2 separate regions of the Homo sapiens genome follow, and region 2 is linked to region 1. The links come from fine-mapping of genetic effects on gene expression. Tissue or cell type: whole blood. Region 1 holds a variant in brackets; the other region holds the start of a gene. All regions are shown on one strand. Distances are from middle to middle.

Evidence for each region. PIP is the estimated chance that this variant, and not a neighbour inherited with it, causes the effect.
Region 2: it holds the start of EVL, and the variant in region 1 is fine-mapped to the expression of EVL in whole blood (INTERVAL, PIP 0.96).

The regions. Positions count from the first base shown.
Region 1 is chr14:99,971,263-99,979,365 of GRCh38, reverse strand. It overlaps a transcript of EVL not described here and the pseudogene RPS2P3. Among named protein-coding and RNA genes, the nearest start is that of EVL, 90 kb to the left of the region's middle. RefSeq lists silencers at 7,773-7,852, 7,993-8,042. The variant TAAATAAATAAAA/A (reference allele first, on the strand shown) is at 3,174.
Region 2 is chr14:100,062,269-100,070,371 of GRCh38, reverse strand. It overlaps EVL (Enah/Vasp-like), which reads right to left and starts at 4,950. Exons shown (of 14, transcript NM_016337.3): 1 at 4,861-4,950. The coding sequence starts at 4,871. It overlaps LOC124903379 (a long non-coding RNA gene), which reads left to right and starts at 6,328. Exons shown (of 2, transcript XR_007064329.1): 1 at 6,328-7,242. RefSeq lists enhancers at 1,145-1,194, 1,355-1,444, 1,526-1,820, 800-1,999, 2,575-2,644 and 6 more.

The DNA of each region.
Region 1 (8,103 bases):
TTTAAAAAAAGCAGATAGGGAAAATGTTCACAGAAGAGAATGTTCCCAATAGATAAATGACTCGAATATATAAGCAGAAATAGATTGCATATTGTGTATATGTGGGTGGGTTTTTTTGTTGTTGTTTTTTTTTTAGCAACTGCAGAAAGATTTAGTAAGTTTCTGTAAATCTTTTAGGTATGGGGATTATTTGTGTATGGGCGGTGAGAGTGGGGGATGGGAGTGTCTAGTTCCTTACACCTCCTTACCCCATCTAATCCAGTACCAGACAACAGTAAGCCTTCAAAAAACGATTTCTCAATGAAAATATGAAAATACATAGAGTCTGTTAGAAAAAGAGAAACAAGAATTCAGGCAGTAGTCTAGAAAATAAAGAAAAACTGAGACTTAGACTTCTTTATTTGAATAAGTCGATTCAATAGTACTTTTTTGCTAAAATAAGTGGACATGTGCCTCGAGTGTTTAGCTCACTTGTTAGAATGCATCTCCAGCGTTATGGCTTCCTGAGATGCTCCAAAAGGAACACAGTTTGGATATTACATTCTAGACTTTTAGCAATAGGTCATATCTACGTACTCTCATGACAGTATCTATCAAGAGAAATAATACGTTACTTTCATTTTAAAAATTTAGGACTGAACAAAAAGGAAAGTGTTATCATAGGTAAACCAAATTGCTTATAAATAATCAAATCAAATCAACTGACAACAAAGGTAATGAAAAGTCCCCCTGGATTCATTTAAATCCATGTACTAAAGCCAAGTACTTCAGGTACAGGTAAATATACACGTATAGGTATTCAACTATAAGCAGTCTGCAATGGAGAACCAGGTTAAACTGTAGCAATTTTAAAAATCTGTGTAAAAAATGACTGACTTAAAAAAAAGAAAAGAAAAATGGCTCTTCATTCTGGAAAAACCACTTAAGAACTTTTATTTCTACATCCATGCCTTTTTTTTTTTTTGAGACAGAGTCTCGCTCTGTCGCCCAGGCTGGAGTGCAGTGGCGCGATCTCGGCTCACTGCAAGCTCCGCCTCCCGGGTTCGCGCCATTCTCCTGCCTCAGCCTCCGGAGTAGCTGGGACTACAGGCACCCGCCACCATGCCCGGCTAATTTTTTGTATTTTTTTTTAGTAGAGACGGGGTTTCACCGTGTTAGCCAGGATGGTCTCGATCTCCTGACCTCGTGATCCACCCGCCTCGGCCTCCCAAAGTGCTGGGATTACAGGCGTGAGCCACCGCACCCTGCTGACTTTTTTTTTTTTTTTTTGAGACAGAGTCTCGCTCTGTCACCCAAGATGGAGTACAATGGCAAGATCTCAGCTTACTGTAACCTCTGCCTTCCGAGTTCAAGTGATTCTCCTGCCTCAGCCTCCTGAGTAGCTGGGATTACAGTCGCCCACCAGCACGCCTGGCTAACTGTTGTATTTTTAGTAGAGATGGGGGTTTTGCCATGCTGGCCAGGCTGGTCTCAAACTCCTGACCTCAGGTGATCTGCCTGCCTTGGCCTCCCAAAGTGCTGACATTACAGGCATGAACCACCGTGCCCAGCCATCCATGACTTTTTTAGATCCCAAAGAATGAGATCTGAGAATGCTCTTATGCTACTGTAGACTCAAAAATTAAATGTTCTGGCCAGGCACGGTGGCTCATGCCTATAATCCCAGCACTTTGGGGGGCCGAGGTGGGCGAATCACGAGGTCAGGAGTCTGAGACCAGCCTGGCCAACACAGGGAAACCCCGTCTCTACTAAAAATACAAAATATTAGCCGCGCGTAGTGGCGGATGAAAATACGATGTATTAGCCGCACATAGTGGCGGATGTCTGTAATCCCAGCTACTCGGGAGGCTGAGGCAGGAGAATCACTTGAACCTGGGAGATGGAGGTTGCAGTGAGCTGAGATCGCACCACTGTGCTCCAGCCCAGGCAACAGAGTGAGACTCCATCTAAAAAATAAAAATAAAAAATAAATTAAATTTCTATTCAGGAGGACTGGTTAGAGCATAATTTTTATCAAATAAATAAGGAAATCAAGACAGGAGAAAGGAACCATGGAAAGGAGATAAAAGTACCTGCCCCCCAAATCTTTTGTTTTAATGACCTGAGCTAAACTGCTATTTTTTTCAATTAATTATTTATTAAGAGGAGTTAAAGACTTATTCTTAAAGTTATCTTGATTCCAAAAGCATTTCACAAACTGGCAGAGATAATCTAATACAATTAGGACAGAACACAAGAAAATAGGTGTCACTGTTCTCTACAGCTTCCATAACCTGGTAGCATGAATCTCCAGAATTGAATATTGACTCAAACTGTTCCTGAAAATGCAAAAATCAGGGACTTTTACTGATAGTAACTGTGGACTAATCAGAACAATCAGAACAATCCTCCATCTAAAAAGAACTAGAAACGCTGGGAAAAATGTAAGAAATACCTGCTTGGAGGCACGGGGGAGGAAAGCAAGTCAGAGCCTGAGAAAGTGAGCTCAGTGTTTGAGGCTAATTTTCCTGAAGGGTGTTTATCAATTCTGAAGGGAATGCTAAAAGATTGGCGCTGGGGTGGAGAGTAAAGGTGCTGGTGAAGAAGAGAACATTAGGAGGAAAAGTGAACAGAACAGGTTTGTCTTCACAAGAACTGCAGCTCAGCTTAGAGATATTTCAATCCCTGAAACTGTACTGAAGGCAACGCCAATTGTAAGTGCTCCCATGTGCCTTATAACAGCAGATATTAATTATCTCTGGAAGAAAAAAGCATCATCTTAGGCCTCAAATTATTCCTACAAATAATTTTGCAAATATGATGTTTACCACACATTAAAAAAAACACTAGGCACATAAGGAGACAAGACAATATGAATGAAAATCAACAGAAACAGACACTGGAAACAACTAACAGATTGCCATAATTGAACATGGACTTTAAGATAATTACACATACTATGTTAAAGGAGGTAAAAGACAAGACTGATAATTTTGGCAGATAGCTTGGAAGTATAAAACAGAAACAAATAGAAATATAAAAATCAGCTGGGCACAATGGCTCATGCCTGTAATCCTAGCACTTTGGGAGGCTGAGGCAGGAGTATCACTGGAGGCCAAGAGTTTGAGACCAGCCTGGGCAACACAGCAAGACCCTGTCACTTAAATAAATAAATAAATAAATAAATAAATAAA[TAAATAAATAAAA/A]GCTGGCCATGGGGGCGTGTGCCTGTAGCTGCAGCTACTTGGGAGGCTAAGGTGGGAGTTTAAGGCTGTAGTGAGTCATGACTGAGCCACTGCACTCTAGCCTGAGCAAAGGAATGAGACTCTGAAAAATAATAAAAATAAAAAACAAAAAAGAAATTTAAAAATAATTTTTAAAAACCCTGAAATTAAAAACTCAATGGGTGGTTTTAATAGCAGATTATATACAGCAGAGGAGGGGTGATGGAGAGAGACAGACAGTGAGAAGGAGATAACCAGAATAAAGAAGAGAGAGAGAAACATGTAAAATGCAGAGAAACAGTTAAGAGACATAGAAGATATAGTGAAATGGAATAACATGGGGGTCCTCAACCCCTGGACATGAACTAGTATCGGTCCATGGCCTGTCAGGAACCAGGCCACACAGCAGGAGGTGAGTGGCAGATGAGTGAGCATTACTGCCTGCAGTCTGCCTCCTGTCAGATGAGCTGAAGTATTAGATTCTCATAGAAGCGTGAACCCTATTGTGAACTGTGCACGCAAGGGATCCAGATTGTGCACTCCTTATGAGAAGCTAATCCCTGATGATCTGAGGTGGAACAGTTTTATCTGGAAACTACCCCCCTAACCCCCCAAGGAAAAATTTTCTTCCATAAAACCAGTCCCTGGTGCCAAAAAAGTTGTGAACTGCTGGTCTCACATATATCACTGTAGCCCTAGAAGGAAAGGTAAGAGAAAATGGGGCAGAAGAAATAACTGAAGTACTTATGGCTGATGATTTCCAAAACCAATGGAAGACATGAAGCCACAAATTCAAGAATCCCTAAAAACTCTAATTATAAATAAAAAGAAATCCATACTAGGGACAGTATAGAAAAATTGCTGAAAACCAAAGACAGAACTTTAAAAACAGCCAGAGAAAAAGACTACTTTCAAAGGAACAAGAGACTGACAAGTGACTTCTCAACAGAAACTAAGTCATAGATAATGAAATAGCTTTAAAATGCTAAAAGAGTTCTCCAAGAAAACACCAAATGGCGAATGAGACCAGTGCAGTGGGAGGGCCTAGAGGCCCCAAAATGGGAAGCCACAGCAGTGGCATCCAGGGCTAAGGCTGGGGCCACGGAGCTGGTGGTGGCAAGGCCAAGGCCAAGGCCAAGGCCAAGGAGTAGGTCCCCATCATCAAACTGGGCAGCATAGTCAAGGACATGAAGATTAAGTCCCTGAAGCTCTATCTCCTCTCCCTGCCCATCAAGGAGGCTGAGATCATCGACTTTTTCCTGGGGGCAACCCTCACGAATGAGTTTAAGATTATGCCAGTAAAAATGGAGACTTGCACTGGCCAGTGGTCCAGATTCAAGGCACTTGTTGCCATTGGGGACTAAAATATCCATGTCGGTCTGGGTGTTAAATGCTCCAAGACGGTACCTACTACCATCCAAGGAGTCATCATCTTTGTCAAGCTCTCCACTGTCCCGGTGCAGAGAGGCATCTCAGGAGACAACACTGGCAAGCCCCACGGCATTCCTTGCAAGGTGACAGACCACTGCAACTCTGTGCTGGTACACCTCATCTCTACACACAGAGACAATGGTTTCATCTTGATCTCTGTGCCCAAAAAGCTGTTGATGATGGCTGGCATTAAGGACTGCCACACCTCAGTCAGGGGCTGCACTGCCACCCTGGGCAACTTCACCAAGGCCACTGTTAATGTCATCTCAAAGACCTACAGCTATCTGATCCCCAAGCTCTGGAAGGAGACCATATTCACCAAGTCTACCTATTAGGAAACTAGGAATTCACTGACCAGAGTCTCCACTGCAGAGAACCCAGGCTCCAGCTATGGCTATTATACAATGCAGGATTTTTATACAAGAAAAATAAAGTGAATTAAATTTTTAAAATGCTAAAAGAAATCAATGGCAAACCAAGAGTTCTATAAAACTAATAAAAAGACACTTCACAAATGGAAAAAAGTTCTAAAATTAGATGTGGTAATGGTTGTATAACTGAATATTCTAAAAACCACTAAACCATAGGCTTTAAATGGGTACATTTTACTGTGTGAATTATATCTCAATAAAACTTACAAAAAAGAAAACAATGAAGAATAAATAATGATGTTTTTCGACAAACACTAAGAATTTGTTGCCAGACCTGCACTAAAGAATACTGAAGAGTATTCTTCAGGCAGAAAGAAAATAACTCCAAAGCGAAGACTGGAAGATGACAAAGGTGGTACAACAGAGTTATGGGGAAAAGATTATCTTTTTAATAAATGGTGCTGAAAAAAATGGTGTTAAGTAAAAATAAAATTTAACCCCTTTTTCACATTATGTCACACAAAAATGAATTTCTGGTGAACCATATATCTTAATGTAAAAGGGAAAACACATGTAAGCTTTCTAATATTTTACAGGAAACTATTTTCGGTGGCTCATGCCTGTAATCCCAGCAGTTTGGGAGGCCAAGGCGGGTTGATCACCTGAGGTCAGGAGTTCGAGACCCGCCTGGCCAACATGGTGAAACCCCGTCTCTACTAAAAATACAAAAATCAGCCAGGTGTGGTGGTACGTACCTGTAATCCCAGCTACTCGGGAAGCTGAGACAGCAGAATCGCTTGAACCCAGGAGGCAGAGGTTGCAGTGAGCCGAGATCGCACCACTGCACTCCAGCCTGGGCAACAGAGCGAGACTCCGTCTCAAAACAAACAAACAAAAACCCAAGAGAAATGTGGGCAAGATATCTGAACAGGCACTCCAGAAAACTATACCAAATAAAAATAAAAAGATGTTCAGCCTCATCAGTCAACAGGAAACTGCAGATTAAAACCACAATGGGATATCATTTCATAATCACCAGAATGGTTAAAATTTAAGACTGACAATACCAAGTGTTGAGAAGGAGGTGAAGCAACAAGAACTCTCACACATTTTTTGGTAAGAATGTCAGCTCGTAGAACCACTTTGGCAACTTGGTGTTTACCGCTAATGCTAAAGATATGCTTATCTTTTGACCTAAAAATTCTACTAGATATCTACCCAATCGAAATGAATGCACCAGGAGATACACAACAATATCCATAACAGCATTATTAATAGCCAACAAAGCTAGAAACAACTAAAATGTCTAGTAACAGTAGAATGCGTACACTGTGGTATATTCTTACAACAGAATACTATAGACCAATAAAAATGAACAAATAACGATTACAACGGAATGGATCTCGAAAACATCTTGAAAAACACCAGACACAAAAGAATACTGTATTATTTCATTGTCATAAATAATACAAAACAGGCAAAACGAAACTATAGTTACAAACTACAGTTTTTACGAGATACGTGTTCAGAAAGCAAAATTACAAATGGAAAAAAAAAAAGTGATTACCCCAAAAAAGTCACGACAGGATCTGGAGAGGAAGGGAGGGTTTAGCGACTGGGAGAGGGCACCGGGCTTCTGGCAGAAGCAAGGTTTTATTTCTTGGCCTGATAATCAGCAGGCTCCCGAGCTGGGTGATACATCAACGAGCGGTACATTTGGGGGCCTTGCACTTTACTGGCGTGCAAGAAGAAAAAAAAGGGGGGTTGAGAATTAGGAGACGAAGGGGTTGACGGGCTCCAAGTCGAGGGGAAACTACACCTGTAAAAGCCCAAACGCGGCTCTGGGCGCTGGCAGGGGGAGGCTTCGGCAACGCCTGGGGGCTTCAGGCCAGCCTCCTCCGGGCTGGAAGGCACCGCACAGGGGCTTCCGCCAACTTCGGTCCTCGCGCGGTCGGGACACGGCCACACCTGCCCGCGGGGGTCTGCCTCCCAGGCCGCCGCAGGCCCCCCGGAGCCTAAGAGGACCCCACAAGCAGCCAAAGCCAGCGCCGCCTGCCCCTTGCAGAACACTGCCCCCCACAAGCCCTGCAGACCCTCCCGGCTCTCCAGACGCCCCCACGGCTCTCGCGAAGCCATTCCCGCGCTCTGAATGCCCCCGAATCTCTGCAGAGCCCCCGCGGTTCTCTGGAAGCCCCCGCGCCCGTGGAGCCCCCCTCCCGCCCTCGGGGGCACCGCGGGCCCCCAGCCCAGCCCCTCCGACGCTGGCCGCTGCCACCTCCCACGAGGCGCCGGCCCCGACTCACCTCATTGTCGCTGCCGGGGACGGGCGCGCCGGGCCAGGGGCGACCCGGCGGCGGCGGCGGCGGCGGCGGGGCGCGGGACGCGGGCGCTAGCGGGGGAGCCGGCCCCGGGCGCGGCGGCTCCGCGTCTGACTGGGCTGCGGGGGGCAGCGGGGGCTCATCTTCTCCGGGTGGGCGTCGGGGCCGCTAGCTGCGGGGAAGGGCCGCGGCGGCGGCGACTGACAGCTGGGCCCCGGCCCCTGCCATCTTGGCGGGCGCGTGCCCGGGCCGGCGTGTGCGCGGGCGCGTGCCTGGGGGCCGCCGCCGGGGGATGGGGGGGCGGGGGGCGAGCCGGCTGGGGTCCGGGCGGCGGGAACGCGTGCGCGTCCGCCTGAGACTCGGGGCGGCGGCCCCTGGCGAGTGCGCGGGCGGCTCCGAGTCCTCGAGGGAGAGGCGCGCGGGCGCGCGGGCTAGTCTCAGCACAGCAGCCAAGAGCTAGGGTACGCGCGTTGCTGTTCGCCCCACCGCCCTCCGAGGGGACTGCGCGCGCGTGCGCCCCTCCGCCCGCGGCCGCTGAGGTGAATGAGCGCGCGCGGCGGTCAAAGCCCGACACAAAAGGCGCGGGGCCCCACCGTCCGCGCCTCCGGGAGCGCTGAGCTTGAGGCTGCGAGGGGCGGGGCGGACGAGAGTGGCGGGGCTGAGGGGCGGGGCTTTGAGGGAAGCGCGAGGGGCGTGGCCGGGGTGGGGGCGGGGCGCCGGGCGGGCACGTGGCGCGGTGCGCTCCCTCCCGGCGCGGACGCTCCTCCAGTCCCCGCCTGA
Region 2 (8,103 bases), 91 kb before region 1:
TGAGAGGGCAGATTTTGATCCTCTCAGAGATCAAAAGCTCCGTCAAGTGACAACAATGTGACCTGGAATACGATACTTTGTAGGCCCTTGTTTTCTTTTCTTTTTGAGGTAGGGTCTTGCTCTGTCACCAGGGTGGAGTGCAGTAGTGTGATCACAGCTCACTGCAGGCTTGAACTGCTGGGCTCAAGCAATCCTCCCACCTCAGCCTCCTGAGAAGTTGGGACTATAGGCTTCAGGCATGCACTATCACATCTGGCTAATTTTCATTTTTTAATTTTATTTTCTTTCTTTCTTTTTTTTTTTTTTTTTAAGAGAGGAGGTCTTACTATGATGCCTAGGCTGGTCTTGAACTCCTCAGCTCAGGTGATCTACCTGCGTTGGCCTCTCAAAGTGTTGGGATTACAGGAGTGAGCCACCATACCCGGCCAACCCTTGTTTTCTTATCTGTAAAGTGGCAATAGTGATACCAGACCTCAAAGGATGAGAATTAAATAGTATGTATATCATGTAACTAGCGTAATGGTTGGTGTATAACACTGAGAAAAGCTGAGCTGTTGTTATTTTCCTCCTCTGTGGGTTCAGTTACCAAAGCAAAGCCATTGGACTACACTAGTTCTCATCCATTTTCTGCCCCAGCCCACCTGAGTATCGTAACATTCTCATGAGAATAACCTAGAATCTCCAGAGGAATGTTTCTCAACTAGAGGCACATGGGATTCTTTGAGACAGAGGAAGGCAGAGAAGCTTCAGAAGCTCTCCAAATGATTTGGCTACAGGTCTCTAGGGAAGTGCGGGTTCCCATGGAGAGTGAACGGACTACGTGATCTCTGAGGGCTTGTTCAATTGCCTCTGGGACTCTCTGACTTGCCCGTGAGGACTGGAAATACCTGTGAGAAAGGAAACACCAGGTGTTCCTGGAGACTCCTCCAAACCCTCACACAAAGGCGTACAATTAGGTGCGAAGGATTGTAAGCTGAACCCCGGCTGTGCGAGACTTCTTATATCTTTACAGCTTCAAGATGTGCAGCACAGTGGAATAAACAGTAATGACTGTGCCCAAGCAGCCACAGCTCCTTCACTACCTGACAGCAAGTGAAATGTCTGTTTTTCTGGTCTCTTCTCTAACATGCCACACCAGGAAGCTCCACTGAGTAGCAACTTTGGTAGCACAGGAATCTTTAGGACCATATATCAAAGTAGTTAATTAAATCCAGCAGTTCAATAAATGTGTATTGCCAGGCAATGTTTTAGGCACTGGGGATACACCACTGAACAAAATAGGCGAAAATCCCTGCCTTCTGGGAGTTTACATTCTTGAGGGGTAAAGACAGTATACAGTAGAACAAGTAAGTTCTATAATACGTTAGAAGATAGTACGTGCTTCGGAAAAACCCACAGCCTACCAAAGACAACAGAGAGACCAGGGAAGGAAACGAAATTAACTGGCTGGCCCCAAAAGTGGCAGACATATCACACATCCATATCACGTTTCCTGCTGCTGCACCGCGACCTCAGCTACTTCCTGCTCAGGTCAGCCTTGTTCAACCCACATTTCCTGGGAACCTGTGCTGCTAGGCCCACACCTCTACAGATTCTTCCAGCTAGCACCCCAGCTGCCCCAGCGTGGTGAAAGGAATCACCACCCACCTAAGCCATGTCTGACTCATGTTTCCCCCACGCCCATGTGTGATCCACCAGATAGTCCTGGAGGCTACAGCACCACGGCACTTCCTGAATCTGGTGACTTCTCACCGCCTACCCTGACTGCTCCACTGCTGGCCCAAACCACCCTCACCTCTTACCTGGATGACTGCGGTAGCCTCCCAAGAGGTCATCCTGCCTCCATTCTTGCCACACTGCCAGCCATTATCCACACAGGGCCCAGAGTGATTTTCTTAAGCTTCTATGAGATGTCTTTCCCTTTGCTTCAAACCCTCCCTCCAAAGGCTTCCCCTAACTAAATTCTGACATACGCGCTAAATTCAGCACAGCTCGCAGGCTTTGCCGTTGGGCCTGATAAAGCCTTCTGTGCCCTTATTTGCCTTCACTCTTCCTTCTTCATGTTGCTCCAGCCTCTGTATTTTTCTTGACCCTTGAACCCACCAAACCATTCCTATCTCAGGGCCTCGTCCCCAGCTGAGGATACTTGCTGCCCTTTCCACCCCAAAACCTTCAGATTTTAGCATGGCTGCCTCATGTCCCCACATGTCCCCTAAGGCGTGGCCCAGTCACTCTCTACCACACTGCTCTATTGTTTTCACGTCTCTTGTTGATGGTTTCTTGACTATATTCTGCCTCCCGACTCTGCCCTCAGTTTGAGGACAAGACTGCCTGTCTTGTTTACCACTGTGTCCCTAGCACCCAGAGCAGCCGCTGGGTGACTGGTTGCCTGTGATGCCTGCCAGTGCCTTCTAAAAAATCATCCCTATTCTTCAAAGTTCACCTGAGATCCCACTTTCTCTTTGAGGTCTTCCCTGACAGTCCCCAACTTCTCAACTCTTACTGCCCCTCCTGTCTATGCTTATTACTCTCTGTGCTGCAGGGTCCTCACAGCCAGTCGCCTCCTCATTTCTGTGAGTGCTGTCTTCCTCACTCCCTACCAGTCCCTGAGGACAGAGGCAGCTCTAATTCAGGCGTAAGAGCAAAAGGGCAAAGCATCTGTGGTCAGGAGGCACAGGTTCAAGTCCTGGGTCTATCACTCACTGGCTATGTCTCTTGTCAAGTTACTCTCTCCTGTGAAACAGAAACAATAAAAACAATGCTAGCTGGGTGTGGTGGCCCACACCTGTAGTCCCGCTGAGGCAGGAGGCTTGCTCGAGCCCGGGAGTTTGAGGCCAGCCTGGGCAATAAAGCAAGACCTCATCTCTAAAAAATACAAAAACAAAAACGCCCCACAACACTACCTTCAGGATTATTGCGATAACTAAATAACGTCAGTGAAAGCATTCTGTACGTTGTCATGCACTCAAGAGAATTCCCAGCTCCTAATCCAGTCAGGGCTTGGAAACTGTTTCTTGATTGGTGGGTAGCCAGAGCTAGAGCTGGTAAGATATATTTTCACATTTAAAAGGTCCTTTGTATCCCCACCACAGGCGCCACGGTATCCCCATGTGTCAGTCAGCATGAGGAAAAACGAAAAGTTCACAGCTCCTATGGCTGCTGACCTTGCAGCTCCACGAACGCTGCTTCCACCAGGACTGTCACTATGGTGCCAGGCCAGGGACCTGTGGCAGAGTGCAAGCAGCCTTGTACGGGGGAGGGACGCACCAGAAAACCTGGGCTTTTGCTTTGGTTCAGCCACTACTCCGCTCCCCGTACACAAATTCTGCTCCACACTGGGCCTCAATTTCCTGATCTGCGCACTCAAGAGCTGGGCTAGATTAGTGTAATCTTCAGACTTGAAAGTCATCACCACCACCAACAATGACTGTTTTTTCTCAATGAATTATCAAGGAATACATAGAAAACATAAAAGCAGAGTTATTTTGGCTGAAGTGGAGAATAAGGTGCCCAAAACATCTTATCTACTGTAGATCACCTCCAAGGTCTTTTCAAGATGGAAATTTCTAGGATTTCTACGATTTTAAAATTGAAAAAGAAATTGCTGTGCCTCATTTACTTTTGATATAATTTTCTGCAATTAGTAATTGACACGGTAGAATAAGCTGCTAGAAGTTTTCACAATGTAATTTACAACTGAAAATGACTTTGGAAGTTGATATGCCTTTGAAATGAAAAGCATTCTGTTTTCTAAAGCTCCACTCACGAGTCCTCTAAAGTTAAAGGAAAGTTACTAAAATGACAGGATCAGAAATAAAGCCAACTGGAAAATAAGCAGCCCTGGACAAGTTCTACCTATCACCACGTCAATTTTAACAACTCACTGCAAGCTGCTTCTGTGCCTGTGTAGCGTGCTGCGAAAACCACCGGATGAGGCCAACCTCGTTAAACCCTGGTTCCATTCCTTCCCCAACCTGCCATGTGACCTTGGACAAACCCCACAACTTTTCAGAGGTTTTCTCAGCTACGAAACAGGAGTGATGACAGCGTTCTCATCAATCTAACACGGCTAAAAGATTCAAATAAGAAAACTGGCGAAATGGCACTTTGGAAATTGTGAAATAATTTTCAAAGTGAGGGATTGTTACTTTATGCTAAAAAACAAAGCTGTCATGAGTCAATCAAACAAATGCCCCAAACCCCACAGGATAAAAGTCTGTCTGTCCTATCATCTATAATCTTTCAGAGTTGTAGGGCAGGGGAGAGGCAGGTCCAAAATGTAATCTCACCTTTAGAGAGAACAATCTCAATGAGGAGTGCGGTTTGTAGACTGGCTGGTATTCACACATGTGCTCAACAGCAATAGCCTAAGTCCACAAGTCTCTCAAGTGGAGGGTCAGGACTCTTGCTATTAAGTTCATGAAGTTCCTATCATAAAAAGAACCCTCTCTGCCTATATTTAGAAAAAACAACCAGTCTCGGGTCATTCTAGAGAGAAGGGCCAGGACTCACCAAATGTACCTCTGAGCTAAACAACAATTCCCCTAGATGGCTCAGACCCTCCTCCCTATAATGAGAGGCAGGTGCTAATTTCTAAGTAAGTCCTTGACTCAGAAGCCATTAAAGGTCACAGGCATCAAGAGACACAGGCCTGTGTAATGGAAAGACCAGCGGCTAGAGAGGGAGCAGACTGTCACTAACCTGCTGTGTAACCTCATGTAAGCCCCCTGCCCTCTGGTCATGGACTTCTCGATCAGTATACTAAGGGGACCTGAGATAATTTCTACAGCCCATTCACCGTTAAGATTCTAGGTTTCCTCTTGACATCCCTCTGTCCCCTGCACTGGTTCCAATACTCACCTTGTGGCCATGGCTGAAAAGTGGCAGCACAGGGAACCCTGAGGAGGCGAGTCCTGTACTCCCACCAGCCTATGTTGATCAGAGGACCACAGACCCTCTGAAGACAGCAACTTGATTTTTATAGCCTACTTAAAACCAAACAGGAAAAGGAAGCTGAACCAGAGACAAAGGGGAAACAAACCCAAGTGAAAAACTGAAACCTAGGTAGAAAATAGAGAAACAAGAAGCTAACACTGCAGAGCCCCACCAGCGTGGGCGGCTGAGAGGCACTGCACAGGCCCAACCCCCCACAGCTGGCAACCTCAAGCCTCTAAGTGCTTCCTGCAAGGGTGCAAGGGTGGGTGAAGCCTGCTGGAGGTAGGGGCCAGGTCATGGTGCTGGCCCCCCACTAACTAGCTCTATAGTCTAAGTCAATGCCACTTAAGATGTCTGAGCTTCAGTTTTCCATCTGTTATAGAAAGTGCAGGCTCAGCACAGATGACTTCCTATAGGCCTTAAGAAAAGGCTACAAGAACTCGGAAGAGTCCCCACTGACTCTCCAGAGAATAGAAGACTAGATGATAAAGGCTATAAGCTGATCAAGTCTTTTTTTCTTTTTTGAGACAGAGTTTCACACTCCTGTCACCCAGGCTGGAGTGCAATGGCACGATCTTGGCTCACCGCCACCACAGCTTCCTGGGTTCAAGCGATTCTCCTGCCTCAGCCTCCTGAGTAGCTGGGATTATAGGCATGTGCCACCATGCCCAGCTAATTTTGTATTTTTAGTAGAGACGGGGTTTCTCCATGTTGGTCAGGCTGGTCACGAACTCCCGACCTCAGGTGATCCGCCTGCCTTGGCCTCCCAAAGTGCTGAGATTACAGGCGTGAGCCACCGCGCCAGGCCACTGATCAAGTCTTCATATTTGACTCTGGAACAAAATTTGTACTTCTACCGAGGAGACAACTCTCTCTAATGATGACATTTAAGTCAGCAATTTAGAGCCTGAAAGGAAAACACTTGAGGAATACTGGAAACTTGGCTTTGTCACTTGTTTATTAAGTGGGTGGCCTCAACTGTAAAATGGGGTTATACTTATTTTGCCTATCTCCACAGGGTTCTCATGAAGGTAAGATCCAGTCCAATCTTTCTTTCAAAATCTACTGAGAACTCACTAAGAAGCATGCACTGTGTTAGAAATCACAGACAAAAAATTGAGAACGACTGTACTTGTCCTTAAAGGACTTTTATGGTTTAGAAAAGAAGAGGTTGATAATGTTAGCAAATATTTAATAGATCCATTAAAATATTATTGATATAGTGAAAAACAGCTGTACAGAGTACAGTACAAAAGAAGTATCAGTTCTAATTGGAGAGATGAATGCACTTTGAATGCTAAAAATGCATTTTAAAAGGCTTTTAATGATATACATTTCCCTTTAAGCACTGTTTTAGTTGCAAACCACAGTTTGGATGTATTGCAGTTTTCTTTTTTCTTTTGGTTCAAAATATTTTTAATTTTCTCTAGTGATTTCTTCTTTTATCCATGGATTATTGATAAGTGCTTCGTTAAATTTTGAAATATTTGGTGTTTTCCTATATCTGTTGCTACCTATTTCCAATTTAATTCTACTGGGGCCAGAGAACATATTTGGTGTGACTTCTTCCTTTGTTTTTCCTGGTATGATCTCAATCCTTTCACATTTATCAAAATGTGCGTTATGGCCCAGCATGCAGTCTACCTTGGCGGATGTAGCATATGCACAAGGAAAGAATGTGTATTCTGAAACTGGTCGGGTGCAGTGTTCTAGAATGTCAATTAGGTCATGGTGGTTAATAGTATTGTTCAGAACGTCTACGTCCTTGTTACTTTTTGTTGCTGTTGTTTGTTTTTGTCTAATTATTCTATCAACTGCTGAGGGAAAGGTCCTGAAATCTTCAACTGTGACTGTGGATTTCCCTCTTTAATTCTGTCACTATTTCTTGAAGCTCTTGTTAGGTACATTTTTCCATGCAGCATTGGTTTTCTGCGGCTGCTGTAACAAATTACCACAAACTGAGTGGCTTATAACAACACACACTTATTATCTTAGAGTTTTGTAAGATGATAGGAGGTCAGAAGCCCAACATCATCAGAAGTTCCACATAGGTCTCTCTTGCTCACCTCTCTCAGCTTCTGGACACTGACTGCATTGCTTTCTCATAGCCCCTCTGTCCACTTTCAAAGCACGCAGCAGTGCTCCGACCCTTCTTCCACAGTGACATCTCTTTCTGACCGCGGTGTGGACAGGTTCTCTACTTTTAAGGACTCGTGTGATTAGACTGGACCCAATGGATAATCCAAGATAACCGCTCCATCTCAAGGTCCACAACTTTAATCACGTCTGCAGAGTCCTTTTTGCCATGTAAGGTAACATTTTATTTATTTACTTTTTTAGAGGCAGGGTCTCTTGCTGTCACCCAGGCTGAAATGCAGTGGTGTGATCATAGTTCACTGCAGCCTCAAACTCCTGGCTCAAGTGATCCTCCTTACCTCAGCTTCCTGAGTAGTTAGGACTATAGGCACACACCATCATGCCTGGCTAATTTGAAAACAGTTTTTTAAATAGAGATGGGGTCTTGCTATGTTTCCGAGGCTGATCTCAAACTCCTGGCCTCAAGTGATCCTCCTGCCTTGGCCCCCAAAGTGCTAGGATTACAGGCATGAGTCACCATGCCCATCCCATGTAAAGTCACACAGTCACAGGTTCTAGGGATTACGGCGGGGTGATGGCATTACTCTGCCTACTACCCATCCTTTCACTTTCAGTCGATTTGTATCTTTGTATTTAAAGTATGTCCTATAGGTAGTGTATGACTGAGTCTTGCATTTTCACCCAGTCTGACAATTTCTATCTTTTAATTGGGGTATTTAGTCTATTTACATTTAGTTTATTGATGTAGATGGATACAGGTCTACTACTTTGCTATTTGTTTTCTGTTTGTCTCATCTGTTTCTGGTTCCTCTGTTCTTCGTTTCCTGTATTCTTGTGGGTAAACTAAATACTTTTCAGAATTCCATTTGAATTTCTCTATTGACTTTTTAGCTATACCTCTTTTTTTTTTAGAGGTCTTTCTAGGGATTACAATATACATTCTTAACTTTGTAGGGTACACTTAGAGTTAATATTGTACCACTTCAGTAAAATGTTAAGAACTTCATAATTGCATAATTTCATTCTCCATTCCCATCCTTTATGGTGTAGCTGTCATATGTTACTCAAAAT